5 separate regions of the Homo sapiens genome follow, and all the other regions are linked to region 1. Evidence: fine-mapped expression QTL. A gene starts in region 1. Each other region holds a variant in brackets. All regions are shown on one strand. Distances are from middle to middle.

Evidence for each region.
Region 2: its variant is fine-mapped to the expression of TMEM170B in whole blood (INTERVAL, PIP above 0.99).
Region 3: its variant is fine-mapped to the expression of TMEM170B in whole blood (INTERVAL, PIP above 0.99). The same link has a PIP of 0.9 or more in blood mononuclear cells.
Region 4: its variant is fine-mapped to the expression of TMEM170B in whole blood (TOPMed, PIP above 0.99).
Region 5: its variant is fine-mapped to the expression of TMEM170B in whole blood (INTERVAL, PIP above 0.99).

What each region holds. Positions count from the first base shown.
Region 1 is chr6:11,534,945-11,541,591 of GRCh38, reverse strand. It overlaps TMEM170B (transmembrane protein 170B), which reads right to left and starts at 3,843. Exons shown (of 3, transcript NM_001100829.3): 1 at 3,218-3,843. The coding sequence starts at 3,314. RefSeq lists silencers at 2,890-3,169, 3,180-3,259, 3,360-3,519, 3,550-4,379 and an enhancer at 3,049-3,550.
Region 2 is chr6:11,608,365-11,615,011 of GRCh38, reverse strand. No RefSeq gene overlaps it. Among named protein-coding and RNA genes, the nearest start is that of TMEM170B, 74 kb to the right of the region's middle. RefSeq lists an enhancer at 5,157-5,698. The variant ATTTTT/T (reference allele first, on the strand shown) is at 3,471.
Region 3 is chr6:11,578,024-11,584,670 of GRCh38, reverse strand. TMEM170B (transmembrane protein 170B) reads right to left here. Exons shown (of 3, transcript NM_001100829.3): 3 at 1,147-6,647. Among named protein-coding and RNA genes, the nearest start is that of TMEM170B, 44 kb to the right of the region's middle. The variant G/C (reference allele first, on the strand shown) is at 3,011.
Region 4 is chr6:11,486,691-11,493,337 of GRCh38, reverse strand. It overlaps LOC105374928 (a long non-coding RNA gene), which reads right to left. Exons shown (of 5, transcript NR_187824.1): 2 at 5,627-5,773; 3 at 2,874-3,025. Among named protein-coding and RNA genes, the nearest start is that of TMEM170B, 48 kb to the left of the region's middle. RefSeq lists an enhancer at 1,214-1,333. The variant G/TG (reference allele first, on the strand shown) is at 3,557.
Region 5 is chr6:11,504,906-11,511,552 of GRCh38, reverse strand. All of the region lies in intron 4 of LOC105374928 (a long non-coding RNA gene), which reads right to left. Among named protein-coding and RNA genes, the nearest start is that of TMEM170B, 30 kb to the left of the region's middle. The variant T/G (reference allele first, on the strand shown) is at 3,115.

The sequences.
Region 1 (6,647 bases):
ACTGCTCTCTGATATGAAGAAAGTTTGAGTGGTCTAAATAGAAGATGAAACCAGCTACAACACTCCCCTAAGCCAAAGCCTAACCCAGAGAAAGACCCCAACTCTCTTCAATTCCATGCAGGCTGGGATGTGAGAAAGCTGCAAAAGAAAGTTTGATACTAGCAGATGTCAGTTCTTTAGGTTTAACAAAAGACACCTCTATAACATAAAAGTGCAAGGTGAAGCAGCAAATGCTGATGTAGAAGCACAAATTATCCAGAAGATCTAGCTAACTGATGAAGGTGGCTACCCCAAACAACAGATATTCCATGTAGATTAAACAGCCTTATATCAGAAGAAGATGCCATTTAGGACTTGCACAGCTAGAGAGAAGTCAATCCCTGACTTCCAAGCTTCAAAGGACAGGCTGACTCTTCTTAGGAGCTAATGCAGCTGGTGACTTTATATTAAAGCCAATGCTCATTTACCATTCTGGCGCCCTTGAGAATTATGCTAAATCTACCCTGGCTGTGCTCTATAAATGAAACAAAAAAGCCTGGATGACAGTACATCAGTTTACAGCACGGCCTACTGAATATGTGAAGCCCACTGTTGAGAACTGCTCAGAAAAAAAAAAGATTCCTTTCATTTTAATGAGTATTTTCTTCAATGACAATGTACCTGGTCAACCAAGAGCTGTGATGGAGATGTCCAAGTAGATCAATGTTGTTTTCATGACTGCTAACACAACATCCATTCTGCAGACCATGGATCAAAGAGTAATTTTGACTTTCTAGTCTTATTATTTAAGAAATACACTGTGTAAGAAGGCTAAAACTGCCAGAGATAGTGATTCCTCTGATGGACCTGGGCAAAGGAAATTGAAAACCTTCTGGAAAGGAGTCACCATTCCAGATGCCCTTAAGAACAATCGTGACTCATGAGAAGAGGTCCAAATATCAACTTTCATAGGAGTTGGAAAGCAATTGACTCCATTCCTCATGGATGACTTTGAGGGGATCAACACTTTAGTGGAGGAAGTAACCATAGGTGTGGTCGAAATAGCAAGAGAACTAGAATTAGAAGTGGAGCCTGAAGATGTGACTGAATTGTTGCAATCTCATGATAAAGTTTGAATGGATGAGGAGTTGCTTCTTATGGATGAGCAAAGAAAGTGGTTTCTTGAGATGCAATCTACTCCTGGTGAAGATCATGTGAACACCGTGGAAATGACAACAAAGGATTTAGACTATTAGATAAACTCGGTTGATAAAGCCGCAGCAGGGTTTGAAAGGACTGACTCCAATTTTGAAAGTTCTACTGTGGATAAAATGCTACCCAACAGCATCCCATGCTACAGAGAAATCTTTCATGAAAGGAAGAGTCTATTGCTCTTCCTTAGTGGCAAACTTCATTGCTGTTTTAAGAAAACTGCCATCATCCCAATCTCCAGCAATCATCACCTTGATCAGTCAGCAGTCATCAACACAAAGACAAGACCCTCTACCAGAAAAAAGATAACGTCCTTGCTGAAGGCTCAGATGATCGTTAGCAATTTTTCAGCAATAAAGTATTTTTAAATTAACGTCTGTACTTTTTTTTCAGACATAATGCTATTTCACATTTAAAGACTACAGGTAAAATGTAACTTTTACATGCACTAGGAAAACAAAAAATTCATTTGGCTCACTTTATTGCAATATTTGCTTTATTGTGGTGTTCTGGAACCAAACCTGCAATCTTTCCAAGGTATGCCTGCACAAATATATGTTAAGTCCCTACTTTTCATTTCACTTAAACAAAAACTGGTACAGTTCAAATACCAAACAGTGGATAAATGCAAGCAAAATCATAAGTAAGATAAAGCAGTCTACCTCTAAATTCAACTGAATCATGAGATGGTCTTTATGTCCATTTAGTTTTCCAGAATTATAACAATATATTCCTTACCGGCAATCATCATGTAAAGTCAGTCTGTTTCAAGTTAAATAACCACAGCTTAAAAGTGAGGATAGCATGAAGCAATCCAGAATCTACTTTAACTGTATAGTTTCCATTCGAAGAAACCAGTGTCCTTAAAGTTGTCTTTTGTGGTATATAATTCCATAAAATTTTCTTCTATGAATGTTTGTATTCTATACCATGCCAGACTTTATATATATGTTATATATATGAACCCAGGTTATATTTGTAAAATACTCACAACACTTTAACCAGTTTGACAAAATGCATTTTGAAATACTAATGTTCTACTGAAATTAACTGCCTTACACATTTTCAAGAATTAAATTCTGAGTATTTTTTTAAGATTTTTTTCCTCTGAAAAGCAGGCACTGAGGAGTCACCAAATCGCAACTGAATCTCTTTCTCGTAAATTCTACTTCAGAGAATAATTTTTAAATTCGGAACTCAAAGTATAATGTAAGCATTTCCACATAACAAAACCAGAAGTTTCTTCACAAAGCAAATCTACAGACTGAATAAAAATATTGTGTGTTTTATCACTCACTTTTACAAATAGAAATTGATGTTATAAGGCCAATTACTGACAGCCTTAATAAATGAAGGGAAATACACAAAATTATCAAATGTCTCAGAAGCAGCAGCTGGAGGCCTGAGGGAAAGAGACAGACAGACAAAAGGAAATGGGAGGGGAAGGAGATATATGAAGCTAACACGCTTAGACCGCACTAGACCTTAGCTCAGCCCCTGACCCACTATAATTTACTCAGTTATCTACATCGCCCAAAAAATTAGCGGTTGAAAAAGTAAATCGACCATTGTGGGCAATGATTTTAGGTTCTACATTTGGCTTGAGATTTGCCAGAAAGAAAAAGAACTAAATCAGAAAAAGATGTAAATAGCAAGAAGCGATGTGTGTAGAAGGGGGAGGGGAGGAGGGTAATGGAATAAAAGCGAAATGCGCTCAAGTCTCAGCACTAAAGCTACTCCGCGCGTACTACAGAGGCCGGGCCGCCACCGGGAGCTCTCCCCGTGCGGGGCAGGAGCGGGGGTCGCTGATGCTCCCCTGGCGACTCAGGGAAGGGGGTGGCGGGAGCCGGCGCCCCCGGGACACGCGCAGAGTGGCTCCGATTAACACCTTCCTCGCCGGGACCTGGAGCTCCGAGCGGGGCGCGCACGGGGGTGGGGCGGCGAGGAGCGTGTCCCCTCCCGAGGAAGGAGAAGACAGGAGAGGGGCGGACCGCATCCCCGTCCCCAGCCCAGGCGCGTCAATTACCCGTGAGGTTCCTCAGCACCGTCCCGTGGGCCCAGAGGCTCAGGACCTGCTGCACCGACAGGTTGATCATGGAGTGGTCGCCCCCCTCCGCCTTCATCTTCCCCGAGGGGCGCCCGCCGCCCTCTCCTCGGGTGCCGGGCGGCGGCGGCGGCTGCGAGGCTCGGGGGGCGGCGGCGGGTGCGCGGCTCCTCCAGGCCGCCGCCGCTGGTGGAGGCTGCGGGACGCCGGGCCGGGCGCTGCTGCTGCTGCAGCCGGAGGGCCTCCGTGGGGGGGCCGCTCAGCGTGTCTCCCAGGCAGCCCCCTCCCCGCCGGGGAGACATTGAGGACGGCGGACGGAGGAAGGAGGGGAGGGGGCCGGGCGCCGTCCTCGCGCGGCCCCCGAGCGAGGACTCGGGGCGGAGGAGGCCGCCGCCGCTCCCTCTCAGGGGCAGCGCCGCGCCGCGGGGACTGGACACGCGAGGAGGCCGAGGTCACGCCAGGAGGCCGGTGCTGATGGGCAGCCGGCAGGTGCAGCCCCCGACAGGGCCCAGCTCATCGCCGCCGGAGGACGGAGACGCGGGACCAGCCAGAGGCTGCGGCGGCACCTGCCGCCCGCCTGCCCGCCCTCGGGTCGCCGACACTCGAGGAACCGCCCCCTCCACCCGCAGCCGCCGGCGGGCCACTCGTGCACGCGCACGCGCGCGCCTCTCAGCGCCGGCCCCTCCTCCCCTGCGCTCCCCGGAGCCGCTGCGCATGCTCACTCCCCCGCTCCCCGCGACCCGCCGCCCTCCAACAGCCGGTCGGCCCCAAAGCCCTCCTTCTCGCTCTCCCCTCGCGCTGCAGCGCGCGTGGCTGACGGCGCCGAGCGACGGCCCGCAGTGGGGCGGAGGGAAGCGCGGTCTACGTCACTGGCGCCACCGCCGGGCCTTACTGCTGATTGGGCGCTCCAAGGGAACCGCCTCCACGCCCCCCACCCCCGGACCCCGGGCGCGCGCCCTGAGAGACCGGGAGACCTGGATCCCTCGCCCTGGCCCGGCTGGGTGCGCGCGGTGCGGGCGGCGTGGGCGGTGCGGGCATTTCGGGGGCCCGCGCTGCAGGGGCAGCCCTGACCCAAGGTGGGGCTGCTGAACTCGGTGAGGTGGATACTGTGACAGTTCAGATTTTTGCCTTAAAATGTAATGCTTTTTGATAAAGATGCTTATGTATAACTTTTTTAAAAAGGTGTCACTATCTCAGCATTTAGATATATTAATTTGCGGGGTTTTTTTTCTGAGCCTGAATCGAATGACCTGGATAGGTCACTTACTTGCAGAATGCATGTTAAAACCCCTAAAACACAAACAGACCTGCGTTATCATTCTGCTAATCCCTCTTCCCGCAGCAAGAACTTGGGCCTCCCGGGGTTCCAGGACCTGCCTGACATTACCTGTTTACTCCAGGCTCGGCAGGTGTCCTAATCCTCAAGGCCATCGCCGGCTCTAGCCCCCCTTTTTTTGATGGTAGTATTCTTTTATCTAAGTTGCGTCTGTTATTTTTTTCCCTCGAACTTAAACTAGATCTCTCTCCCCACGCTTTGCTGTCTGTCTTCATGTCCAGCGTTAGCCAGAGGAGCATCTAAAATCCAACTACAAGTTAAACTCCTCGAAATTGGAAACCTTCTAACTTTAAAAAATAAAAATTTAAGTTTTAGCAGTAACATAAATATGCAGTAGCCAGCCCCTCCCCCCACCTTTTTTCAACCCCTCTGCCATCTGGATAAAGAAAAATTTACAAAGAGAAGTGAAGAAATACCTGCTGTAGCTAAATCATGAAGTATATTTGACAAAGCACTGAAGGGTCAAATTACCTGTCAAATGGTGCTCTTGGTGACCACTTTAAAATAATATTTACATACACATTTATTTCTTTGTTTATTTGTATTTTCTTTTTGATGTCACAACATAAGAGAAATTTTTGCACCATTAATAGGAATTGAGCCAAAACTCTTAATGTAGAGTTTATCTTCCTCCTAGAATTTAGACTTAATTAGATCTATTAACAAGATTACAGAATATCAAACCTAAAAGAGCGCTTTAACATTTTTCTAATTTTATTTTACAGATAGGGAAACAGATTCTGTGAATTAAGTGACTTGACAGAGATGACAGCACTTCACAGCTCAGTTTCTGAATTCCTGGTCTATTATTCTTTCTAGCAACCACATTATCTTTCTTAACCCACTGTTAACTCCCTCACTTTAAGATTCTTGATGGGGAAGTGCAGGTTACCTAATGATATTCTTAAGGGACTTGGCATTACATAATTAGTGATGTTAGGGAATGTGACCACATTCAGTGAAGGGTTCACAGCAAACTCCCTGAGCAGGGGCTCATTAAACTCTCATATCAGAAACCTTTAGTTAGTTTACGTTCTTAGGATTGCACACTATTATTTAAAACACAGTAGCACGCAGTGAAAATATTCAGAACCTGGGACAGTGCCTGGCACCTGCACCACAAATATTTGTTGAATGAATCACTGAATGATCTTCATAGAAAAGTCAGCATTGTTCTTGTTCTGAATAAATATTTTTTACAGAATCCAAGTGTTCATGTCAGGAAATGAGAAAGACACAGCAATGAAGTCTCAAGTCAGTAATGTTATTTGCTGCCCAACAACTTCACCCCTGCTGTTCAGTTCAATTTAATTGGCGTCTATATTTATTTGGCATCTACTATCTGTAATGTTCTGTGCAAGGTGTTATCTGTAACATTTGAAGATAAGATCTCTACTCTCTAGGCTACTTAGGTTTTCCTTGATAAAAGTAATGATCTTGACTGTGTTGGAAGCTTATATCCTTAAGAGAATTAGACATTTTCCCAACAGCCAGAGTTATGAAACCCAAAACTGAGTTAATACAAATGAAAGTTTTGGAATTTCTTTCCTACAGATTTTTTATTTTGAATTAATACACCAATTCAGGAAGAGTTTAGTCACGTTCCTGTCAGAAATCAGGGACCACCCCAAGTGAATCCAAAAATTTCCTTTCAACTCTGTGCCCTTCAGCATGAAACAATTCACAAACGTAATTCATAAACCAAAATTCCTGGTTTATTTCTCTCATGTAAGTGAGGGAACACCCATTAGCCTTAGTCATTTTTAAAACTGTCCAGAGACAACCTAGAGGAAAGCTTTTTAAAATCAATTAAAATATAAAATGATATTGATCTTTTGAGAAAAACATTTTCAGGTATCTTTTCAGAAGCACCCCACTCTACTGGTATCAACTTAACGTATTAGTCCATTTTCACGCTGCAGATAAAGACATACCCAAAACTGGGCAATTTATAAAGGAAGAGGTTTAATTGGACTTACAGTTCCATGTGACTGGGGAAGCCTCACAATCATGGTGGAAGGCAAGGAGGAGCAAGTCCCGTCTTACATGGGTGGCAGCAGGCAACGAGAGAATGAG
Region 2 (6,647 bases), 73 kb before region 1:
TTTTCTTTGGGAGATCCCCAGGGACCTGACATGGGCTCTTGTTGCGGTTACTGCTGTTATCGCTGATATTACAGTAAGGGCTATGATGCCAATAAGCTAGATAGAATGCTTGTTCCAAATACCAGGACATTCAATTCTTTGTGATTACCCTTCAAGGAGAGTCTCTGGTATTTTGAAGCTGGCACACTTATTAAAAAATTAAATAACAGGTGGTCAGCCAGAACCCAAGGGCATTTCCCACCCTGAACTGTGCATGCCAAAACTAACCAAACAGCCTGGTTGTGTTTTCCTTTTCTATTACCGGCATGCGAACAATGCAATCGTCGTCGTTTATGCTGGAGATATGGTGTCACCCTTAACCAAGACAAAGGATCAAAACAGGCTTTGTTCTAGGACTCTCTGTTCTATGGCCAGAGAGTTCTTGTAGGATTTGTACTTGCTGATCCTTGGAGTGCAAATGGGATTTCTTTAAGTCCCCAGTAGACTTATTCCTGTAACCAAGATTTTAATAAGGACTTTTCCCCCACCCACCAATGTTGCCTGTGCCACTGCTTCTCTGCAATTTCAGCTATAAAATGGTTTTTTTTTTGTGGGGAAGGTGATTTCCTTCTTGCTGAGACTAACAGAGGGCAATCTCTACCTCCATACGTCTCTGGGCTTCTTACTAGTTTCTTAGGCCCAACCGGAGATTCCATTTCATAGAATCAGATTTTTAACAGATTTTGGAAATTATTCGGTACAGTCTCTCCAAATTGCAGATGAGAAACTCATGGCCAAGAAGAATGAAGTGTTCAAAGTCACTCAGCCAATTTGTGGCAGAACCAGAGCAAAAATTCTGTCTTCTGACCCCCAAGCCCATGCTGGGCCCACAGCACTCCAGCTGCCCTGGGATCGTGGCTGACATCAATGGGTTTCCCATCCTATACAGGAAAAGTGGCATTCCAAAACTTCCTTCAAAATGAAATCTAGCCACAGTTCGCAGACATAATCTTGTGAGTCACTCACTGAGAATCTGAATATCTAAACAGTATCTAAGTAGCTAAATATCACCAGATTACGAGCCAGAAAACCTCACTGGAACTGAGTTGGCTTTACACTTAACATTGGGTACGTACTTGGATGGTTCAGGATTTCCTGGGTCATATTTTCCTAATATATAAAATGGTGCTAGCAATAGGTCCTCACCTGCCTTGCAGGGTAATTAGGAAGATAATTTGAAAGGAAGTTTTATTTTAATAGTCATGGCATAAATGAATTTGATACCCACACACCTAGGTTTGATTCCTGCTCCGTAAATTACTGGCAGCAGGCTCTGGAAAAATCCTTTAACCACTCTAGCCAATTGTTTTCACATCTTTGAAAATGAGGCAAAGACATCCATCTCATAACTTTGTAGAGGATTAAAATGAGATGGGTATGAAATCAGGTGTATGACACAGTTTCTGGTAAGTGGTAAGCATCCACTGATGAACTGCACATTCTAGCTTCATCACTTCCTTTGTGTATCTGGTTTTCCCCAACTAGACTTCAACTTCCACACAGATTTGTTTCCTTGAAGTGAAAGGCTAACACTCAAGACATGCTTCCAGTTTACTTCCAAAGCAGAAGAAAACATGATGCTAGTCCTTAAGGAGTTCTTACTTCCTACAGAAAAACAAGATGAGCTAACATATTGAGCATTTTGCAAGCATTATCTCATTTAATTCTGATGGCATCTCTATCATGTATACTGTATTTGAAGCTCATTTTACAGTCGACAATATGTAGGCACCAAGAGATTAAGTACCTTACCCAAGACCACAAATCCACTACGTGGCAGAGCTGGCCCTCAGAACTCTTCCAGTTTTGCCCCAGGTTTGTAGACTCATCTCCTGTTCTTGCCCTAGCATTCTGATCTCTCATCATGTCTTCCAAGGTCATTTTAGCAAGGAACTCTGTTTCATGTTTCCTGATGGATTTTTTTTCTAACCACGTGTGTTCATTTGCTAGGGCTTCCATAACAAAGTACCACAGACTGCGGGGCTTAAACAATAGAAATGTGTTCTTTCACAGCCCTGGAGCCCAGAAGTTCGAGATCCAGGTGTGAGCAGGGTTGGTTTCTCCTGAGGCCTCTCTCCTTGGTTTGCAGATGGCATCTTCCCCTGTGCGCTCCTATGATCTTCCCTCTGTGCACGTCTATGTCCTCATCTCATCTTCATAGAAGGACACCAGTTATATTGAATTAGTGCCCACCCTCATGACTTTACTTTTTAACTTCATTACTTCTATAAAGTCCCTATCTCCAAATACAGTCACACTCTTGAGAGTTTGGACTCCTGAGGGTTTGGACTTCAACATATTAATTTTGAGGGACATAATTCAGCCATAACACTGTGATTTCCATCACAAATGTGTGTCTCCTCCTAAACAAATTCTGAAGTCCTAGCATCCAGAAACGATGGAGAAAGGGAGGGGAAGGGCAGGCGGCATAGCCTCTGCTGAGGAAAGTACACACATTTCTCATGAAACATTTTTCAGTGGCCCCTTCAGCTCCCTTGAATAACCTGACTACTTCATCATTCCCACACCCTCTGTATTCTCCAGTAAGCCCTTTACACAGGTTTCTCTTGTCAGGGCCACCACGTCCCCACTTTAATTCTCATCTTGGTATGCTTCTGGGGGAATCCAAAAAAAGACAATTGCTAAAATGAAATCCTAAGTAGAGGTGATGTGAGCACTAGTAGACATAAGCTACACAAATCTCCAAGATTAAGCCTAACGACCATGTGATGTGTTTCTGCCAAAATTTCTATTTATCACCAGCACAGCAAGCTCTGTATTCATGAGACCCAGTGCAAATGAAAACTGTTTAAAAGTGGGGGAAGAAACTATTGTCAAAGGTACTATAAAATAAAGCTTTTTTCCTTCCTTCTGCAGTGTCTCAATTTATCATGATGTTAAAAAAAAAAATCTGCTGTTTAGTGTTGTTCTAAGTCAAGAAAAATTAAAATTTTAAATTATTAGCATGAATTTTATGGTTCATCTTTACATTGTACAATGTCAGTTTTAAATGCAAATATGGGCCAGGTGCGATGGCCAACACCTGTAATCCCAGCACTTTGGAAAGCCGAGGCAGGTGGATCACCTGAGGTCAGGAGTTTGAGACCATCCTGTGCAACATGGTGAAACCCCCATCTCTACTAAAAATACAAAAATTAGCCAGGCGTGGTGGCGTGTGCCTATAATCCCAAGCTACTCACTCTGAAGGCTGAAGCACGAGAATCACTGGAACCCCAGAGGCGGAGGTTGCAGTGAGCTGAGATCGTGCCACTGTACTGCAGCCTGGGTGACAGTGCAAGACTTCATCTCAAAAAAAGATAAAAAAATTAAAAATAAATAAATAAATAAATGCAAATATGAGAGTATTTAACTCATCTGCAGAATCACTGGAATTATGTAATTCATATTTTTCAGCTTATACATGAATATAT[ATTTTT/T]TTTCTTGCCAGAACAGTGGAAATACTGCACAAAACTAACTCAACTCTTTTTATTTATTTATTTATTTATTTTATTTTATTTTTTTTGAGATGGAGTCTCAGTCTGTCACCCAGGCTGGAGTGCAGTGGCGCAGTCTTGGCTCACTGCACCGTCCGCCTCCCGGGTTCAAGTGATTCTCCTGCCTCAGCCTTCCGAGTAGCTGGGGTTACAGGTGTGCACCACCACACCTGGCTAATTTTTGTATTTTTAGTAGAGACGGGGTTTCACTATGTTGGTCAGGCTAGTCTCGAACTCCTGATCTCAGGTGACCTGCCTACCTTGGCCTCCCAAAGTGCTGGGATTACAGGCGTGAGCCACCACACCCAGCCTTTTATTTTACTTCTTGATATGCACAAACTCTATCAAATCTTAACGCTCAGCTGCCCTTTTTTCCTTTTGGTCTATGTCTTCATTTTCAGAGGAAGTATATGGTTAATTCAGGGAAGTGCATGAGTAAGAAAGAACAGAATAGGGTCCGTTGGTCGTTAGTATTTGTTATTAATAGAATGCCATTGCCTTCTTTCTTGTGTCAAAGCAAGTTCTGCTTCAAATGGAAAATGTGCCCTCTTGGAGCTGTCAGTGTCCCTCCTCCTTCCTCACCTCACCTTCCTTGGTTGTCCATGCTTACCTTGTATTTGCTTTGAGTCTCCCCTGAATCCCCACACGTGGTGGGTCCACTGGAATTCTGTGTCCAGGGGGCATCGCGAACACTGTATGTGAATGAGCAGCAAGGATCAATGGACATGCATGTTGCATGTCACTACTCAGCTCACATGCATGCTCCGTTTTCATGTTGGAGTACACCTGCAAGATCCGAGTTCAAAGGTATTAAGGATTCATTAAGGATTAATAATTTATTAATCCTTATTAAAGATTTTACCATGGCAACAGCAGAATGTTAAACCGGATATGAGATGCTTGTGAGTTCAGGGCCCTGGGTAGGTCACTCAACTGTGATGCTAACTTTGATCACAGAGAAAGGGAGGCCATGGCATGTTGAACACCCCTAAGTGGGAATCACGCTTCTGCATTACAACCAGAGGCAAGGCACTGAACTCTCTAGTCATCAGAGTCCTTATAAGATGAATGTCTTGTACATGATAATCATGAAGGTATTATTTCTAAACACTTTATCATTCAACCAAGGTGAGAGGGCTTCTTGAAGTTCTTTATTATGTTCAAGCAGGTCTCGTTTAAAACCAAGAGTGAATTTAAAGAACACAACTGTCCCTTTGTTTGGGATTCCCCTGCACTCACTAATATCATTTAGATAAGTTAAAAAAAAATCCTGATAGCTTTTGAATATTTTTGGCAAGAGCAAAATTTTTTCTAGATGGCCAGAAAAATTCCATGATTATTTTTTTTTCTCTTAAATGCAGGGGGCTTTGCAGGCTTCTAATTTTTAAGCCTGAGTGCATCTGCAGACACACATAGACACACGCACGCCCTTGGTTTCCCCTCTGGCCCACACCAGCGTGGCATGGCCCAGACAGCTGCGGTTTGTTGTGTTCGCTGGTTTCCAGCTGTGGTCCTTGCACCTGTCCTCACCCGTGTTTTGTACATTCTGGAATGTCTGCTGGTTTTCCTTATCAGACGCGTGGAAGAACATAAACATGTCACCTCTTCCTAACAAGACTTCCAGAGTGTGTGTGTGTGTGCGTGTATTTGTGGGACTTCCTAGAAACCAGGGCTGTTTTCTCTTGCCAGGCGCCACAGCAGGCCTTCCTGTGCAGGAGGTCATTTCAATAAGGACTCTCGGAGCTTAGTAAGCAGAGAAAAGAAGGTCATTCCCAGACAGGATGTTGGGAAGACGCCCGGCATGAGCCTTGCTGGGCAAGAGACGCCAACCGGACCAAGAATGTGGGCCAGTCCCCCAGGAAGTTATTCATGAGCCTGCACTGTATGATAAACAGGCAACCAAAGCCTTTTCTAAACAACTAAAATAACAATGCTCCAAATTCCAGAAAATCCTCAAACAATGACTGGACATTCCTTATCCCCTATTTGCTTATTTGTTCACCAAGTACTTTCAAAGAAACCAGAAACTGAAGTTCTGACTTGGGTTTCAGAGCAGGAATAAAGTGTGAGAAGATGTGCTGGCCACGCCGCACTCCCTGGGGACATTCTTCCTTTCAGGGGAGTCTCCCCTTGCCACGCCAGCCCAGCCTTCCAGAACCCTTGTCACTCCCAGTGGCAGTTGAAGGCTGAAAGCCAGCATGGACTAGCTTTAAGACAGGTCAGCAGGATGGGGCCGAAAACAGGGAGAAGCTTCTATGGTTTACGGGATCAAAAGATGTAAATTGGTCAGGTTAGAAAATTATTCCTGAATAAGCAAAAAAACTATTCGGGGAGCTGGAAATGTGCTATATATCTACATGACTTGAAAGAGATATCAAAATTCCTTGAGGGCATGTATTGTTTAAATTGTAATATACATTCACTTGCTACACAATGACACTTCAGTCAAAGGCAGATGCATATACAATGGTGGTCCTGTAAGATGATAGTATTTTTACTGTACTTTTGTATGTTTAGCTACACAGATACTTACCATTGCATCCCAGTGGTTTATAGTATTCAGTACAGTACCATGGGGTCCAGGTTTGCAGCCTAGGAATGATAGGGTCTACCGTATAGTGTAAGTGTGTAGTGGGCTATGCCACCTCGGTTTGTGTAACTCTGATGGTCACACAACGATGAAATAACCTAATGAAGCATTTCTCAGAAGAGATCCTCATTGTTAAGCAGCACATAACTGTGTATGTATAATAGTATGATTATATGTGTGTGTACACATATATAATGTATACATAATTTGCATAATTATGAAATAATATTCTGTACACATATATAATGTATACATAATAATTTACATAATTATGAAATAATATTCTGAGTATCATTTTATAGATATAAATGTCTACAGAATCTAAGTCTGCAAGTAGTAAGATGACGGGTGGATATATGCACATATATCTTCTAACACTTGTTTATAGGTAAGACCCATTCTTCATTGGAAGAAATAGAAACTCTTGTCATTTTTCTCACTGGTTCAGTAAAATTGCACTTGGAAACTTCAATGCAATCTTCTCTCTACTGTCCCGGCTGCAGGCCAGAACACCCAGTTTCTTC
Region 3 (6,647 bases), 43 kb before region 1:
GTCCAAGATGTTAACATTCATGGCCAGGGAGAAAATGTATTGAATAATTTTATGATTAGTGTGAATGAATAAAAAAAATTACCAAGGAAGAAGAAAATATATTTCCACGGAGTAATTACGTGGAATGAGTAGGTCAGTGTATGTGAAAAAACGTTTACTTCCATTATGCTTGCGCAATGTTTAAAGTGAAGCTAGTTTTCATTCCAGCAAGATTTGAAACATTTATAGTGACTGGCTCTGTCAGCTCCAATCTCTTCACAGGCAAGATAGCAGTTGAATCTAGTTGGGTACTTAGCACTTCCCTGAGAAATCCCAAACATTCAAAATATGCATAAATTTGACAATTCAAATCCTCGGTTGATAATTTTTCAAGACCACATAATTTCATCTGGTTTTTTACAGTAATGAGATATTATCTCATTACAGGTAAGAGTTCCCAAAATACTCTGTAGACACCAACACAACATAGTTATGTTGGGGGAAGCAGGTAATCGAGCAAGAAAACCCCAGCCCGGCAATTATTAGCTCTGTGGCCTTGAGCAGATTCCTACCTTCTCTTAACTTCAAATGCTTCATCTATAAAACGGCGATAAAACATATCACTTGAAGGGTTACCTTAAGTGTTAAAGAATACATAGGAAGTGTCTTTAACAGATAAGAAGCACTCAACAAATGGTAGCTCCTTATTAATAAAATTGATAGCATGTTTCTTTAAACGGTAACTCAGAAGTAGATGCTATGTGGCCCAGGATTGATCCTAGGCAAGTCTATTAACCAGACTTTATGCCTCACACCTTTTTTTTTTTTTTTTTTTCTGAGACAGAGTCTCACTCTGTCGCCCAGGCTGGAGTGCAGTGGCACGTTTTTGGCTCACTGAAACCTCCGCCTCCCGTGATTTCCCAGGCTCAGCCTCCCAAGTAGCTGGGACTACAGCCACACACCACAGCGTCCAGCTAATTTTTTTGTATTTTAGTAGAGACGGGTTTCACCACGTTGGCCAAGCTGGTCGCCTCTCAGCTTTTAAGCACTAACTCCTAAATCTGTAGGTAAAACAGGGCCAGAAAAATTGACAAAAAGGCAAGAGAAGACATTTGAGTCCATAGTGAATGAATTGAAAAGATTTATCACCAAGAGTCAAACACCCCATAAAGCTTTCAAAGACAGGTTTATTTATATATAAGTGCATGAAATTGAATACAGAAACTTTATTAAAATACTGTATATTACAAATTTTTAATCCAATAAATTCTGTGTAATGACATTTAAGTGCTGGATTCACTTTTTAACAGTTGTCTTGTGTGTATCAGTAAAGAGTTCACCCTGTATATTACAAAGAGGAGAGCCACATGTGGACCTCAGAAATGGTCCTGTGATTAGACACTGAATGATAGTAATTGTGCATCTTTTCCTTAAAGCAATGAATTGGAACCTAGATCTTATCTTTGTAGACCTACTTTCTATAATTAAAAATAACTTGCATATGTTTATTGCTGCCCTTTGAAGAAAATGAGAATGGTGAAAAATAATTTAAAATAAAGATCAACATCTCTAGGCTAAACTGATGCTTACTGCAATTAAAATTACTTAAAATTCACTGCAAAATTTGTGTTCTCCAGGAAATTATGCTATATACATAATGAGATTTGTACATGAATTGGGAAATAAAAAATTGCTTATATAAAATTAAAAATCAATAATATACAATATTTACAGCTTGTTAGGTATTATATATAAACATAGTTTTTAAAATAATCCTTCAAAATTAAACTGTTTTATGTAAACATGCAGTACACATACTCATATAGTTTATAGTCTTAACAGAAGGGGAAATTGTGTTCACATAACACAGGGTACTTCATCAAATATGCCTTTGTTTTTGTGTATTACCCCTCCAACATTTATTCTCCTGTCTTTAAGCTTCACAGTACATTTAGTATTTCTATAGTAAAAATAAATCCCTGATGGTAAACATATTTCTAAAGGTTAAAGTGTGTGCCCTGTACTACAGTATAAAACTAACACTGTTCACTAGAATCTCTAGTTTACAACAAAACTAAATTTTAAAGTCTCACACTTAATTTTCTTAACTACATTTTTTTCCATTTCATACTTGGAAAAAGAAAAAATAGAGAAAAATACCACATCATGAAAATATAGTGAAAGTAGCTGTCATCTGTCACAGTCAATGACTAAGTAACTGATTTACATTGAACCATATGAAGTTAGTAGCTACTATTCGTTAGGCTTTCTAAACTTTGAATTCCCAGTCACTGGTGATGTGTATCTAGCCAACTCACTGGTGCCAATCCTGAATCTTGCTAAATCCATTTTGCACAAGTATCTTAACTTTCAAGGCACTAAGGCTTCATTTAGCTTTTAAAATCTGCCTGTGATTTACCAAAAGATTCATCAGTGGTCTGAGAGTTAACACAATTTGAAAGTGAGACTTTTAATACTTGTCAGGTAAACTATATTTTTGCTATTTAAATAAAGACATTTTAGCTAGTTAACTTTCAAGATAAAGTTGATTCCCTCATCTCAGAATAACTAGAGTCAGGGGCTAATATTTTTGGTAGAATCCTATGAATTTTGGATGGCTAAAACAAAAAATACCGTGAATTTCCTATTTGTTCATCTAAATGCGTGCAGCTCAAGTCTGAATGTGTGTATTGGTGAGAGGGCCAAATCTTTCAAAAAAATTCTTCCATTGTAAATGCATCCAACATCAAAAACATTAAGAAAGTGTCAACAGTTAAACTATCAACTCATCTGCTATTAAAAGCAAGTCATTTTTATGATCATTTACTCAACAAGTGCCACTATGTTGCTTTCTATGGAGAAAACTTTAAAATGTTCCATTCCAAAAATACTTAACAATGATGTGTAAATACTTTAAAAACAAGAGAAGCGTCATCATCAGTAGTACTCTCGAGTTAACGTTCCTTTAAACAAGGCTCTAAAAAAAGTGATTTCTGCTTAATTCAGCAAGACAGAATAAAATTTTTAAAGT[G/C]GTGATTTTTAGGAACTACCAATTTATAAGAGAAAAAGTGTTACAGTTATGGGACTCAGACGATTGATTATGCACCGCAATTCCTCTTTCTGTGTATTTGTGTCAAACTGCTTTTCCGTTTCAGTTATCCACCTAAATACATTCCCAAAAAGGGTGGAGTCATGTTACTACCAAGAGTAGATACATGTGGGTGCAGTACATAATCGTAAAAATGTATGTATGAGGTTCATGCTCTCCTGACTTGCCTAAAGTATTTACTTTTCAGTAAGATTAGAGCTGCATAACTGTAGGGGTTAAGAGTATTCTTTCCTAAACCAGCTCCTTGGATTCTATCAACAAATTGTACATATGTTTAAACTATAACATACGACATCTGTATGGAAAGAGGAGGAAGATTTTTAGGAAATTGCTAAATTCGTTCTCAAAATCAGGGAAGAGTTATTATGTAAGTTCAGTATATGTGCAATAAATGTAAAGAATGTGAAAACAACTTCCCTAAACTCAGGGGAAGAGATGATTATAGTTCATAGCTCAGTTCACTCAGAAATGTGTTTCCACTAATTTAAAAGTATTATCTGATATATCTCCACATTTACTGAAAATACTTCAGATATTAAGCATTATTTCCCCCAAATTCATGGATACATTTTTAGATAATTCAGCAACCTCCCTAACAACACTGTACTGCCTACACAGACCAGAGCTCCTTAAGTGAGAAGAGCAAACCTGTCACCACACACACACACAAAATGCAATACAATTTCAAAATGCACGGTGGTCAGTGAAGCCTCACATATAAAGAAACACAGCATGTGTAAACATGCAGTATACATACTCATCCAGTATAGTTTCTAGTCCTAACAAAACACAGGATGTAGGGCGCTTTGTCAAATATGTTTTTGTTTTTGTGTGTTACCTCTCCAAATGCTATAATTTTTAATCAAATAATATCCTTTTTATCCTGAAGAGTCTTCTTCCAAGATGTTATAACAAGGACGGGAAGTTAAGAAAGATTATAAAACCATTTGATTATTGGTCCGTTTTAACAATTCAGAGTTTCACCCGATTATTAAAAGAAATAGTAATTTACCCAGTTACCCAAAAAGTGTTACCAAATTTCTCTGCAATCGAAATCTGCTAGAATTTCTTCAGTAATTTTCCTCGTCCCTCACATCTTAAAAACAAATAATGACTGCAGAGATTCTGATTGAGACTGAGAGAAAAATCTGTAGTGTCAAGAGTGAAGTGGTTTGAGAATATTTCAGAAATTGCTCCAGGCATCGTTACTCCCTGAATTACATAATGAACATAAATTTAAAATAATAGTATTTGAAGTTAAAAAAAAATAGGCTGGGCACGGCAGCTTACACCTGTAATCCCAGCACTTTGGGAGGCCAAGGTGGGTGGATCCCTTGAGGTCGGGAGTTTGAGACCAGCCTGACCAACATAGAGAAATCTGTCTCTACTAAAAATACAAAACTGGCCAGGCATGGTGGTGCACGCCTGTAATCCCAGCTACTCGGGAGGCTGAGGAAGGAGAATCGCTTGAACCTGGGAGGCAGAGGTTGCGGTGAGCTGAGATCATGCCATTGCACTGCAGCCTGGGCAACAAGAGCGAAACTCCGTCTCAAAAAATAAATAAATAAAAGAAACAAAATAACAGCTAGGGCTTAAGCACCCTTGGCCTGTGGAAGAAAGAACTTGGTAGACACTGAATATCGTTCTATTTTTCTACAGAATTGGCACTACACTGTAGAGCCAAGGGCCCAGGGCCGGCAGAAGAAACAGACATATAGAAGACTGAAGGGTTATATATCGCTCTTACTTTTCAAGAAGAATAATTAGCAAATAGCAGAAAGTCAATAAATCAACATGGCTGAATGAATCCAAGGGAAGTAAGTGGGAATAGATAAGGGAGTCAAGGCTGACTACCTCTCTACCCTTTTCCTATTTTAACCAGTGGTCAACAGAACTCCTAATTTAATCCTGCTTGCACTGGCCATTTCCACCACCACCAATTCACAAAAGGTTCTTAAAGATCTGCTGATTTTAAAAAGAAAAAGTGAAAAGGAGATGAAGCAAGATTATAAGAAAACGTTTTTAGTTTCTTTCCTAAAGCATATGTAAGGAAAATATAGAAATGAAACAAAATTGATGAATTTTACAAAACAACATATTCAATTGGTAATGCAATTGCAAAATGTAATTTAAAAAAATTCTAGAGACTATCAGTTGATCATTTACTGTGAAATACATACTGCTTTGCCATTCATAAACAATCTCACGTAATCCTCACAATAACTACATGAGGTATTAGTCACATTTTACGGAGTATGAACTGAGGCTCAGAGAAGTTAAGTGATTTGCTCAAGGTCAAAAAGTTGACAAGTGACAGAGTCTTAATTCAATCTGTGTTGCTGGCTTGGAGTCTCGTATTCTCTTCACTATGTCACAGCCATGATATCTCAGTTATGGAAATTCTATTTAGTGGATGAACCAGGAAAATGAGAATTTGGAGGGATAACAGGCTAACTCTCAACTAAAATCAGGAAGCAAAATGTTGTCCCAAACTTTTTAGGATTTAAAAATCATCTTGCTAGCTCTTGGTGTACTCAAGGTAAAGAATTCCATCTTGGTAATTCTTGTACTTCTTACTAGAGAAAATACTTGGTAGAGCACTTTACATAGTGGATCCACACGAAGTGTTTACAAAATAGAATTATTTGCTGTATGAGTGGCAGCCTAGGTACATCAATGTGGCAGCCACATTTTCTTCATTAGAGGTTCTTTAAAGACCTTTCCCACAACATTCTGTGATTTCAAATTATCCCGTTGCTCATATCACAAATACAAGATATACAGGCCAACTCATTTCTTTATTTCTCTCATTTAAAGTACAAACAAAACCCTTATACTTTTTTGAGCAGTGAAATGTATGCTGCAAATACTAAGAAAGTATATTGGGTAACAAACTGTAACACTGTTTGGTAAACATTAAGATCTAAAGAATAATTCTGCTCCAGGCCCTGAAGATAGCCATCATTTAGGACTTCACTTATCCTAGGCAAGGTAGGCTATTACCTTGGAACTGTCCCATGGTTCGGAAGACTGCTGGTTCTCCTTCTTTTAAAGTTTTAAGCATTATTTGCAGTTTATTTGAGGCCTCCTGACTAGCTGTGATCTATGGCATTTTTAATCAGTATGTTCAACTGTAATTAGTTTGGGCATGTAGGAGTTCCTTCTTTGGGGAGCTGATTTCACTATAAACAATATTTTATTAAACATTTTTTAAATAAAGGAGTGTCCACTATAGAGGATCCTCCCTCCCTTCTTGCATTTGTCACGAAGAAAATGTACTGCTAAATCACATACGAATTTTAACAAAGTATATAACCCAAATACATCAATAAGGACTTTTGTCATGTCCCAAACAAGGGTCTCCAGCTCTATTAAGTGAAGAAAATTTTCCCAAAATTCAAAATTTTCAAACATCCTCAAACCTATTTAAAAGATCATTACACTGAACAAATTTTCCACTAGAACATGAAAGTGTTCACTGAAAAAAAGCTTTCCAAGTAGACTGTATTCATATATAGCAGCTCTCTATATACCTATATAATGATATATACGTGTGTGT
Region 4 (6,647 bases), 48 kb after region 1:
TGGTATTTCTCCCCTGCTGCTTACAAGTTCAAATGCTCTGTGCACTGACAGCAGCAGGAGGAGGAAAAGTTAAACATGGTGATGTTTACTAGAGGAATCTGTCCTCTGTAGTTGTAATTAAGAGGTTTGCTAGACCATATGGGACTGCTGACCAAGTACTAAAGCAGCTATGTCAAACACAACACCAGTGGTTTTATTTACAGCCAGGAAACCAGTGTGTTTCACGTGCTATCCCAACAGGGACCATCTCCACATCTTTAAAGAACAATGTGCCGATAAAAGAAGTAGAACGAAGGATTGCAGCCCCCCCAGCCCCCCTGAGCCTCTCTGCCTTCTGGTGACAGAAGCATTTTAATCGTCACCACCTGTAGAAAATGTTCTCTTCCTGGTTGCCTAACCCGGAGATCCAGCAGTTGGAATTCCAGACAGGAATTCTATAGTGTGGGATGGAGAAGTATTTGGAGATGATGTGGTCGCAGTTATCTCTCAAGTTATTCTGGAGAGGCCATTTTCTCTCTTCCTATACTTGTGTTGCCCTATTCCCAGTTTTACTTCACAATGTTTTGAGGCATGTCTATGAGGCCCCAATCCTACACCCACGTAATCTCTCTCTACACTGCCTTTCTCTCCCTAACCCTGCGGCTACAGCTCCCCACACCAGTAGGCTCAGCCCACACTAGTTCCCAAACCAACCTGGGATTGCGTAAGCAACTTTAAACCTAAACCTACAAATCTACTGTGAAACTCAGAGTTTGATGACCGTGCAATGACCCCAGTTCCTGGCTGCCATGTTACATCCTGAACCCTTACTACAGATTTAACTGGGATGGGATATCCCCGAGGTATCCATCAGGATCCAGCATCCATAATAATAGTTGCTCTCCATGGGGAATTTCTGCTAAAAGCAATCCTCTAATCCTGACAACAGAGACTTTCACCATCTTTGTCTTAAAAGATGAGGATGCAGGGGCCTGAAAGAGGCTATGTAACTTCCCCAAGTCAGTGTCAAGCTGGGACTGGAAGATGAGTATTCTAAAAATTATACACTGTGAGCTGTGATTCAGCCTCGAGGGACTCTACTTGCAACCACTGTCTGGTCTTCCAGTTTGAAACTTGTTCTGAGCTTCCTCTTCTACCTGAGTCTCCAACCAGGTTCCTCCTTGAAAACTGAGTTAGCTAGGTGACCAGGACCCTGTACCCCAGGTTCATCTCACCTGGCTTTCTATCGTTCACCAGAATTTCTTACTGCAATGTTCCCCTTCTCTTGGGACACATGACTGCTTAACATAGGCTTTTAATGTGTGGCTCCTTGTCTGTGAGAGTTGGGAGCAAAGTAGGCCACGGGCATGAGGAAGGCGATATTGTAGCAGCCTTGCTATCAGGGTCAACATGGTGCAGGCAGGCATTCGGTCCTCTGCAGCCCTGTAGGGCTGCAATGCGTACCCTCAATGACTCTCAGCACACACGTGTGCACACACCACACACACAACCCGATACACACATGCACACACTCCACACACACACACACACTCAAACATACCACACACACCACACACACAACCCGATACACACATGCACACACTCCACACACACACACTCAAACATACCACACACACAACCCGATACATATCACATACACACACTCCACACACACACACCACACACACAACCCAATACACATCACATGCACACACTCCACACACACTCACACAAACATACCACACACACCACACAACCCAATATACACACACATATACACACCACATATACACCACACAACCACATACACACCACACACATCATACACACACCACCCTAACACACCATACACACACAACCCTAATGCAGCAGCAAGTTGGAGGACAGAAAGACACATACATATACACACCACACACATATACACACCACACACACAAAACCCTACACACATCACACAAATATACATATACACATCACACACACACCATATACATACACAACCCTACACACATCACAAACCTATGCATACATACACATACCATATATACCCACACACACAACCACATACACAGCACACACACAACACATCATACACACACAACACATACACACGACCCTACATACATCACACACACATGCACATATCACATATGCACCGCACACACCATACACATACACATCACACACACGACTCTATACACATCACACACATAAATACACATATACACACCACATACGTACCACACACAACATACACAGCACACAGCACATGCATCATACAAACACATACACACACATACCACATACATAGCATATACGCTACACACACATACACACATGCTATGCACGCACATAGACACACACACACCCTTTCTTCCTAGATTCCCAAGTCTTACACTGCACCGCCACCTCTCCTGACAGGCATAGAGGGCTGACTGTATTGAAGCCCGGCTGCAATGAAAAAACCTGGTTCCCTTGGTGGCTGTGACAACAGCATCATCAGGCATCTAACCAAGGCAAGTGCTGCAGTCGATGTTCCCGAGTATTCCTCTCTAGATATAAGCTCCTTTGCTTCTGAAGCAATCTCAAAACTCCTTTACAGTCTGGTTCAACAAATTCCCACACTTGTACAATGTTTAGTCCATAAGTACTGAACATCAAAGCCAACAGAAAACCCTAGGCGTAGGTCTGTCTATTCAGAGATTATCTCAGTTGACAGCAAGTGAATTGACCCATCCAAACCACTGGGTTCCATGACAAATTCTTCTCCAGTACCTAATATCTTCGGGATAACGCATTCATTCGCTGAACAACTCTTTGCTGATTGCCGGTGTTAGGTCACTGAGGGAGACACACATCTATGACTCATGTGACCTCAGCCCTCCAGGACCTACCTTCCAGTTTGCTGGGTGTCATAGCAGATGCAGTAGGCAGACTGCTCGGACCAGCTCCACATCCATCCTCCATTCACAAGAAAGGCTTCTTGCTGTGAGTATCTGCAATTCTCTGCTGGGGGGATTTTCTTTACTGGCCAAGTGTGCCTGCCCTGAATGCAGGACAAAATGGAAATGCTCAAGAATGATTTTCCCTGGAATCCCTCAAATAAATAATGGGCAAGGCATTGGTGAATACACATTGGAGCCTCCCTGACCTTGGCTGGGATAACTTTGTTCCACATTGCCTCCAGTGGGATTGAGGTCTAGTCCTCCATATCAGTAACTGAACTGATAATTCATCCTTAATTGATTTTCTTTGCCTCCCACTTTTACTAACCCCCTCCTCCACTGATGATTACTGGGATCACCTCTCAGCTAAACTACTCAGATTTGAATCCTTGTCTCAGAATCAGCTTTCAGAGGAACCCCGACTAATTAAAGGGCTAAAATACATGTATAGATAGTTATAATTCTAGAAGAAATGAGGTAGATGACATTAGAGTGCTTTATTTAAAATCCTGTAAGAGTTCACAGGAAGAGTAAATTACTTTGAGTTCGGAAATTAGAAAAGACTTCTTGGAGGACAGTCCTTAAATGGGGAGTAGGATTTGGGTGTTCAGTGATGGAGCAAAAGACACTCT[G/TG]AGTGGGGTTGGGTAAGTGGAGGCATGACAGCAGGAATTGAGTATGGCATGTTTGAAAACAGTTCAGTCTTACAGAAGCATTTTATAAAGGAAAACAGCAGCAGAGGAGCCAGGTAAAGATAGATTTTAAATCCTAATGCCAAGGTCAGAAATGTTTATCAAGCTATCTAGCACAGCTCTATCCAATACAAATTTCCAGAATGATGGAACTGTTCTAACAATGAGTTGTTCAAAATGGAGGCCACTAGATACAGGTGGCTATTAAGCATTTGAAATATGGCTAGTGCCACTAAGAAACTGAATTTTTAATTTAATTTAATTTAATTTAATTTTAACGAACTTAAGTAGTCAAATGGCCAAGGACTGCTATTTTGGACAGTAGATTTCCGGGCAATGCAATATGACAGGATCAGAAATATGCTTCAGGATAAGTAATCAGAGAACTGACTCTAAGATCATATGGGAGGTGATCTGAAGATAGAGACCGATGATGAGGCAGAATCAATAACTGGGTAAGTGTCGTTTCTTATTAAAGTTGAAAATGAAAATATTTTCTTCAAATAAAAAAACAAACACATAAATAAAACAGATGAAAGTGGAGCTAACCTTGCTAAAATGAGGAGAAGTCCTTGAGGAATCTCCCTGGAAATCCCAAAAGCTGCTCAGAACTCAGCTCATTAACCACTAGGCCAAGTCAAAGGTGGTGAAGAGTTCTACCAAGGTAATAAAAATGAAGAGGAGGAATAAATCTGGGAGACGTGATAGAAGTGAAGTTAATCTCTCTTAGCAACTAATTACGTATAAGAAGTAAGCCTTGAATATCTGCACATTTATTCTCTTATTCACCTAAGCCCAAACCCTGGTGTTATCCAAAATTCTTCCCCATTACTCAGTCATCACAAATATATTCTTCCCCATTACTCAATCGTCACAAATATACGAGGTGAACAAGAATAAAGCTTATTGAACAAAATTAACATACACAGTGTGACATAGATAGTATTGAGAAAAATCAGGACTCACATCCAGGTTCATTGATGAAAGGCTTTCCCTAGGGTTTCCTGCCCACCCCCAGGATAATGCAGTCATAGGAGCCAAGGTAGGGGCCTTTACAAGTAGGGTTGTCAATCAATAGTTTTAAACACAGCAGCAAGTTGGGGGAGAGAAAGACAAATGGATATTAAAGTTGGGAGTTAATTTCAGTTAGAGTTAAGGGAAAGAAGGTAGGCTCTCAGATGTCAGACTGCTAGGATTTCAGGGATATGGTAAACAAATGAAGTATAAAAAAAGTGAAGATGCAAAAGTGAAGGCAATGAATATAAACTACTCTTTAGCTCTTTGGTAAATGGAAGAAAAGGATGGAATACCCTGGGAATACTCAGCAACCTGCTTGCTGACTTGCATTTTCTTCGTCTGTGAAATCTTAAAGTATCAAGAACACCCAATGTCTTTTCTTTTTTCTTTTTTTTTGAGACAGTTTCTCTCTTGTTGCCCAGGCTGGAGTGCAGTGGTGCAATCTCGGCTCACTGCAACCTCCGCCTCCCAGGTTCAAGCAATTCTCCTGCCTCAGCCCCCTGAGTAGCTGGGATTACAGGCATGTGCCACCACATCCAGCTAATTTTGTACTTTTAGTAGAGAGAGGGTCTCTCCATGTTGGCCAGGCTGGTCTCAAACTCCCGACCTCAGGTTATCTGCCCACCTCGGCCTCCCAAAGTGCTGGGATTACAAGCAAGAGCCACCGCGCCTGGCCAACCCAATGTCTCTTCAAAGAAAGTCCTTGGTCATCTGTCACTTTACTTAGAACTAAGTGGCCTCATCATCAGATTGATAGGACCAGAGGTAAACCACTGAGGGAGCCATCTCTTTTAGGCTTACTTGTGAGAATGGAACAGCCTGGTAGAAGAGCTCTTCCCAATAGAGGCAGGGTGCACTGATGGCCAATTGCCCAGGGAACTCGCCCTCCCCGTCAAGGAGTTGGAACCCCCCAAAGACACCAGAGAGTTGCAGGTAGCAGCAGGGAAGGTAGAGGCAGAGACATAAATGGGGGATCACTTTGTCTCCTCCAGTCACCTGAAGCAGAGAACAATAAATTTATTCCCTGAAGAAACAAGATGACCAGATGCGTGGAGCTTCATGGTGTCTTGAAGGATGTTGCATTCTCCGCAAAGCTTTGCTGAAAGTGGTTGAGATCTTGTCTTCCTTATCTTCTCTTGCATCCTTATGAAAAAAACAGAACACAACATCTGTCTTTTGCATCTGAAAGAACATAGCCAAGGCATGGGATAGTCCTGAAGACAGTGAGGCGAAAGTCTTGATGCCCTTCAAAAAGTAATCCTAGAAAATTCTCATAGGGCAAGCCTCTTTCAAAAGATTCTCTAATGGCCATAGGTGCAATGGTCTCATTTTTGAGAAAGTACAGAAATTTTAGGTTTACTCACAGACTCTGGAATAGTGCCCTCTGCCCTACAGAATAGCTTTAACAAACAAATAAACAAACAAACAAACCAGAGTCTTGCTCTGACACCCAGGCTGGAGTGCAGTGGTGTGATCATAGCTCACTGCAGCCTTGAACTCCTGGGGTACTACAGACCCACACGTCACCATGAGCAATCCTCCTGCCTCAGCCTCCCACAGTTCCGGGATTACAGGGATAAGCCTCCATGCTGGGCTTGGAATGGCTTTATTTTAAAGAGACCAAGGTTACAGATAGCTGAAAAGTACAACTTCAGTCCTTTGCAATCTTTTCTAAACATAGCAGGCTGAATCTTCCCTTTTAGTACTGGAAAGATAAATTAATGAAAAGTCAGTACTTGAAAGAGAAAAAAAAATCCAATGACTCTGGAACGGAAAGCAACCTTGGAGATTATTATCTGAAGTGTATCTCTTCCAAAATTTATATGTGGAAGTCCTAACCCCCAGTTCTTCAGAATGTGACTGTATTTGGAGATGGGGTCTTTAAAGAGGGAATTAAGGTAAAATGAGTTCATGCAGTGGGCCGAAATCCAACCCGACTGGTGTCCTTATAAGAAGAGAAGATGAGGACATAGACATAACAAAGGGAAGACTGTGTGAGGACACAGGGAGAAGATGT
Region 5 (6,647 bases), 30 kb after region 1:
GCTGAGGCAGGAGAATCGCTTCAACCCAGGGGCCGGAGGTTGCAATGAGCTGAGATTGCACCACTGCACTCCAGCCTGGCAATAGAGCAAGACTCTGTCTCAAAAAAAAAAAAAAAAAAAAAAAAAAGAATTTCCCTTGTGTTTCTTGTACTGTAGGTCTGCTAATAAAAATTATTTTCATTTACCTGAAAATCTTTATTTTGCCCTCATCCTCAAATGTTTTTTTTTGCATTTAGTTGACTTTTTTCCTCCTTTCACCATTTTAGAAATGTCATTCCACTGTCTCCTTGTGTCCATTGTTTCTGATAAGAAATTATTGTTATTTCATATCATTCTACATTATGGAATATGTTAATCTGTGGTTAATCTGTGGTTGTTTTCAAGAGATTCTCTTTAACCATGGTTTGAGAAGTTTGATTCTAATGTGCATACATGTGGTTTTCTTTGTATTTTTCCTGCTTGGGCTTCACTGGGTTTGTTATAGTTATATCTGTAAATGTATGCCTTTCACCAAACTTGGGAAATATTTTCCAATTATTTTCTCAAATATTTTTGCTCTCTCTCCTCTTTTGAGACTACAACTACACATATGCTAGACCTTTCCACATTGTTTCCACAGATCACTGAGACTCTACTTTTTTCTAATCTTTTCTCTTGTTTTTTTTAGGTTAGCTACTTTCTATTGCTCTATCTTCAAATTTATTGACTTTCTCATTTTAATCTACTGTTAAAGTTATCTTGCAAATTTTAAATACAGGTTTTAAAAAATTTTTTGGATTTTCATTTGTTTCTCTTTTGTAGTTTTGATTCCTCTGCTAAAATTTTCTCTCCTTTCATTCATTGTGAGCATGTTTTTCTCTAAATCCTTGGAATGGTTATAATAGTTGTTTTAAAATCCCTATGTGCTAATTCCAACCTCTGGGTCATCGCAGTGTCAGTCTTCACTTATTTGCCTTTTGTCTTGAGATCACATTTCTCTGTTTCTTCATAAATCTAGTAATTGTGGATCACATGAATATTATGAATGATGTGTTGTAGGGACACTGGAATCTGTTATGTCCCTTTGAGGAATTTGTTTTCTTTGTTTTTGTTTTTAAGCAGGCAATTAATTTAACTTTAATTCAAACTCCAATCCTGTTTTTTGTGGAGTGGAGCAGCTGAAAACTCAATTCAGTTATTTTAGACTCATAAGGCCTATTTGGAGTTATCCCTGTGCATATGTAGTACAGGGGTCAGCCAGAGATTTTATCCATGTTCATATATAGAATCCCCCTTGCCCCGCCCCACCCATGGCTTTTACCTTTTGTGGGTTTCCCCCTCAATCTCCAGCTGCCATGGCCTCCAAAATCTGTCCTGTGGTTCTCCAAGCCAATAAGACTGGATTTCTACTGGAGTTTTACCCACCAAGAAAGCTGCAACTAGGGCCTACCCTCCAGCAAAATGTTGTATCAAAACAGGAAAACTACATGGCCATTTCCTTCTTTCAAGTATAAGTTTACCTCCAATTTCTTTCATGTCTTCTAGAGTGCCTTTAGATTAATCCAATTATATTTTATATTTTGTATGGAGCTTATTTTTGTTACCTGAGAGTGGGTTGACCCGATAGAAATTACTTCTCCATTTCATTTTAGAAACTTATTTGCATTAAGTTTTTATTCACCAAGAAATCAGTGCTTATTAGTTTTCACAGTACCTCTATGTAATAGTTCCCTGGTGCTTATGATAAGTAGATTTTTCTCTATTCTACCACTGTAAAATATTTATTCATTCATTCACTCATTCTCCATATATTTTTTGAGGATCTGCTATGTTCTAGGCATAGGATAAAAGTGAGTAAGATATGGTATTTGCCCTCACCGAGCTCAAAATCAAGTGCTACACTGTGCATTACGGTAGTTGCTAGCCATGTGTAGCTATTTTAAAATTATTTTTACATTAAGCAAAAATAAACAAAATTAAGAAGTTAGTTCCTGTGTTGACAGACAGGTATTACGTTAATACCACTAGCCACATTTCAAATGCTCAATATATAGCCACATGTAGCTATTGACTACCATAGTAGACAGCACATATATAGAACATTTCTATCATCCCAAAAGTTCAGATGTACTGTGTTAGTGTAGGAGAAGAGAGAAATATGAAAATTTATCACTAAAATATAGTATGATAACAAAAAAGAGTTATATACAAGGTATGGCAGCTGAACAGAGGTGATACTATTTAACTGATATTACAAAGATCCAAAGGGGAGATAATATGTAAGCTGAATTTTTAATGATTAGAAAGATTTGATCAGTCATCCTAGGAAATATAAACAACATGTCAATAAGCATTGAAGACTTAAATCAGATTACAAAACTATTTTTTAAAAGCCCTGACTCTCATATTTCTATTTTAGGCATCTGAATAAATGGTAATATTCACTGTTTGGGGATCATAAATGGAGCACATTTAAGAGAAAAGTGATAAGTTTGCATGAGGCCATTTTGAATTTGGCATGCCTGTTGGACACTTAAAGAAGCTGGATGTATAGTTCTTGAGACTGGAGAAAGGTGGTTTGAGTTGGCAATGCAGATTTGATGGCATAATATATTTTAGGTGGTTGTTAAATTTGATAGCATGTTTGAGATGTGCTAGAGGATGTAGAGTAAGAAACAAAAGGAACTAGCACATCGTGATGATTTCATATATGTCAGACATTCTGTTAGGCACTTTACATGTATTTGGGAAGAAATGCAATTACAATTGTATTTTGGTATGAGAGACCTGGATTTGAATTCTTGCTATACTACTTTACTGTGTGTGACCTTGAGCAATACACTTAATTTCTCTAAACTCCAGTTTTCTCATCATTCAAAAAGGGTAATAATAAGGCCTACCTCATTTGGTTGTGTGAGAATTAAATACAAAATTTGGAGTGTCTAGCATATGGTAAGTCCCCAATACATATAATTCACTCTATTTTTATTATTAATATTATTATTATTAATGACATATTATTTAGCCTTCATAACAACCTTATGAAGTAGCTTTATTGTCTTCCTTTAGCTGAAAGTATTATGACTTGACTAAGGTTTCAAGTTGGCAGCTGGATGATCCAGAGACAGAATCCAG[T/G]TTTAAATTAATTGAAATTTAAAATTTCTCTCCAGGGCTCTTTTTATAAAACTGCTCTGTGGTAGTTTCTTACAGACATTTGAAACAAGTATTTGATGAAATTATATATATAAGAATATAATATTCTTCGTTATTGTTATTTAAAGAAAAACAGAACATCTCCAGACACGACTCCAAAACAACTGTGTAATCATATTTCAGTACATGTAACCTCTCTCTTTGCCAAGATAGTTAGTGCTATAAAAGTAATACCTGTCAACAGATTTGATTACCCTCTGCTTTTAGACAACTGAAAATAATAATCTTAGATGTCAGAATATCAACCAAGAACTACAAAAATGTTCTTCTCCATTAAGTTTTGGACAGATAACCTATACTTACTTTGAAATATCTTGCTAAGACTGAAGTCTTAATATATAAATATAGTGGAAATAATTTGTGCCACCCACCAATTTCAAAGGCTAGTTGATAAGTGATTAGAGCAGCTTTATGTCTCTGTAAAGAGTTATAGGAACCTAATGATTTATTAGCATTTCAACTGCTGCCTTCTTTTTCCTTTCATGCTCTGACAATTCTTGTCGTAACACCCTTGGCTGGTGATTTAGTAGAATCTCCCTTAGCTGATGATTTAGTAGTAAGCAGATCTTAGATTTAAAATTACACAGCTCCCCTATTTAAAGCTGCAGGGTATTTGTTCCAATGGAACTTTACTTATGTAGCAAACATTCATTGGTACCTTGTTGTATACCAGATACTGTCCAAAAGTAGAGACCCCAAACTGAAAAGGCATAGTCCCTTTCTTTAATGAGTTAATATTCTAGTGAACACAGTGGACTTCTCTAAAGAATGGATGACTCTACAGAGAAATCATTGCAATAAGTTTTGTAATAAAGAGATGTTAAAGTTGCATGGGGAGCTTATCCAAAGCAGTCTTCAAACAAGAGGTTAAATTTGTAATATTATAAGTATGTAAATTTGTAATATTATAAGTATGTAAGTATGTAATATTATAATTATGTAAATTTTTAAAGGCCATTAAATTGAACACTTACGATTTATGCACTTCAGTTATGTAAATTTTATCTTTAAAAATATGAAGAGATATTGAACGATAGCAGGTTTGCTTTTCACAAGGGTATGGGCTGGCAATTCAGAAACATTCTCTGTATTCTAGACTTAATAAAATGCATTTATTATAGTAATATTTTATAATTTAATATACACAATATATGTATAATATATATAACATATCTATGATAATAAGAGGATGAGAGTCAGGTTTCCCACTGTTGAGAAGGGAAATGCATGTGGACATGGGTAAAAGGAAATGTACTCTGTAATGTTTGATTGCAATTGGAAATATCCGTGTAAACTTATGGTTTTTCATAGTAAAACTTTAATCTTAATTTTTATTTTTTTAACTTTGGTTTTAGGTTTGGGGTACATGTGCAGGTTTTTATATAGGTAAATTTCATGTCAGGGGGGTTAGGTGTACAGATTATTTCACCACCCAGGTAATAAGCATAGTACCTGATAGTTTTTTTATCCTCACGCTTCTCCCTCCCTCCACCCTCAAGGAGGCCCCAATGTCTGTTGTTCCCTTCTTTGTGTTCATATGTACTCAATGTTCGGCTCCCACTTAAAAGTGAGAATATGCAGTATCTGTTTTCTGATCTTGTGTTAGCTTATGTAGGATAATGGCCTCCAGCTCCATCCATATTGCTGTAAAGGACATGTTCTTGTTGTTTTTTTGTGTCTGTGTAGTATTTCATGGTGTATATGTATCATATTTTCTTTATCCAGTCTACTGTTGATGGGCATTTAGGTTGATTCCATGTCTTTGCTATTGTGAATAGTGCTGCAGTGAACATACATGTGCATGTGTCTTTATGGTATAATCATTTATATTCCTTTGGGTATATGCCTAATAATGGGATTACTGAGTTGAATGGTAGTTCTGCTTTGAGTTATTTGAGAAATTGCCAAACTGCTTTCCATAATGGCTGAACTAATTTACCTTCCCACCAGCAGTGTATAAACATTCCCTTTTCTCCATAACTTCATCAGCATCGGTTATTTTTTTACTTTTTATTAATAGCCATTCTGACTGGTGTGAGATGGCATCTCATCCTGGTTTTGATTTACCTTTCTGTAATGACTAGTTATGTTGAACATTTTTTCATATGCTTGTTGACTACATGTGTATCTTCTGAGAGTGTCTATTCTGTCCTTTGCCCACTTTTTAATGGGATTTGTTTTTTGCTTGTTGATTTGTTTAAGTTCCTTACAGATTCTGGATATTAGACCTTTGTTGTATGCATAGTTTACAAATACTTTCTCCCACTCTGTAGGTTGTCTGTTTGCTCTGTTGATAGTTTCTTTTGCTGTGCAGAAGCTCTTTAGTTTAATTTGGTCCCATGTGTCCATTTTTTATTTTGTCACACTTGCTTTTGGTGTCTTTGTCATGAAATCTTTGCCAGGTTCTATGTCCACCATGGTAGTTGCTAGATTATCTTCCAGGGTTTTTATGGTTTGGGGTTTTACATTTAAGTCTTTAATCCATCTTGAGTTAATTTTTATATATGGTGTAAGGAAGGAGTCCAGTTTCAATCTTCTGCATATGGCTAGCCAGTTATCCCAGCACCATTTGTTGAATAGGGAGTTATTTCTCCATTGTTTTTGTCAACTTTATCAAAGATCAGATGGTTGTTGGTCTGTAGCATTATTTCTGGACTCTCAATTCTGTTGTGTTCGTCTGTGTGTCTGTTTTTGTACCAGTACCATGCTGTTTTGGTTACTGTAGCCTTGTAGTATAGTTTGAAGTCAGGTAACTTGATGCCTCCAGCTTTGTTCTTTTTGCTTAGGATTGCCATGGCTATTCGAGCTCTTTTTTGGTTCCATATGAAATTTAAAATAGTTGTTTCTAGTTCTGTGAAGAATATCATTGGTAATTTGATAAAAATAGCATTGAATCTATAAATTGCTTTGGGCAGTATAGCCATTTTAACAATATTGATTCTTCCTATCCGTGATTATGGAATGTTTTTCCATTTGTTTGTATCATTTCTGATTTCTTAGAGCAGTGCTTTGTAGTTCTAATTGTAGAAATCTTTCACCTCCCTGGCTAACTGTATTGCTAGGCATTTTACTTTACTTTTTTGTGGCTACTGTGAATAGAACTGTGTTTTTTATTTGGCTTTCAGCTTGGATATTATCGGTGTATAGGAAAACTGGAAAGAAAACATAACATCTACCATAACAAGAAAGCTCCAGATAAACAGTACAATTATAACACTTTTTTCCATCAGAGAACAAAGGTTGCAGCACAACCAAGAAGACTGAAATTTAAAGAAAGGCCCTTATTAGGATGCAAGCACTGTCATACCTGAGTCAAAGCATGAGATGAAGAGATGTTAGATGCCATACAAACAGAATAAAAAAGAAAAAAACTGATCAGATGAAATATTTGAAAAAATAAAAATAATGGAAAACATCAAAATACATATCCAAGAAATGCATGGGACCCCTTGCAG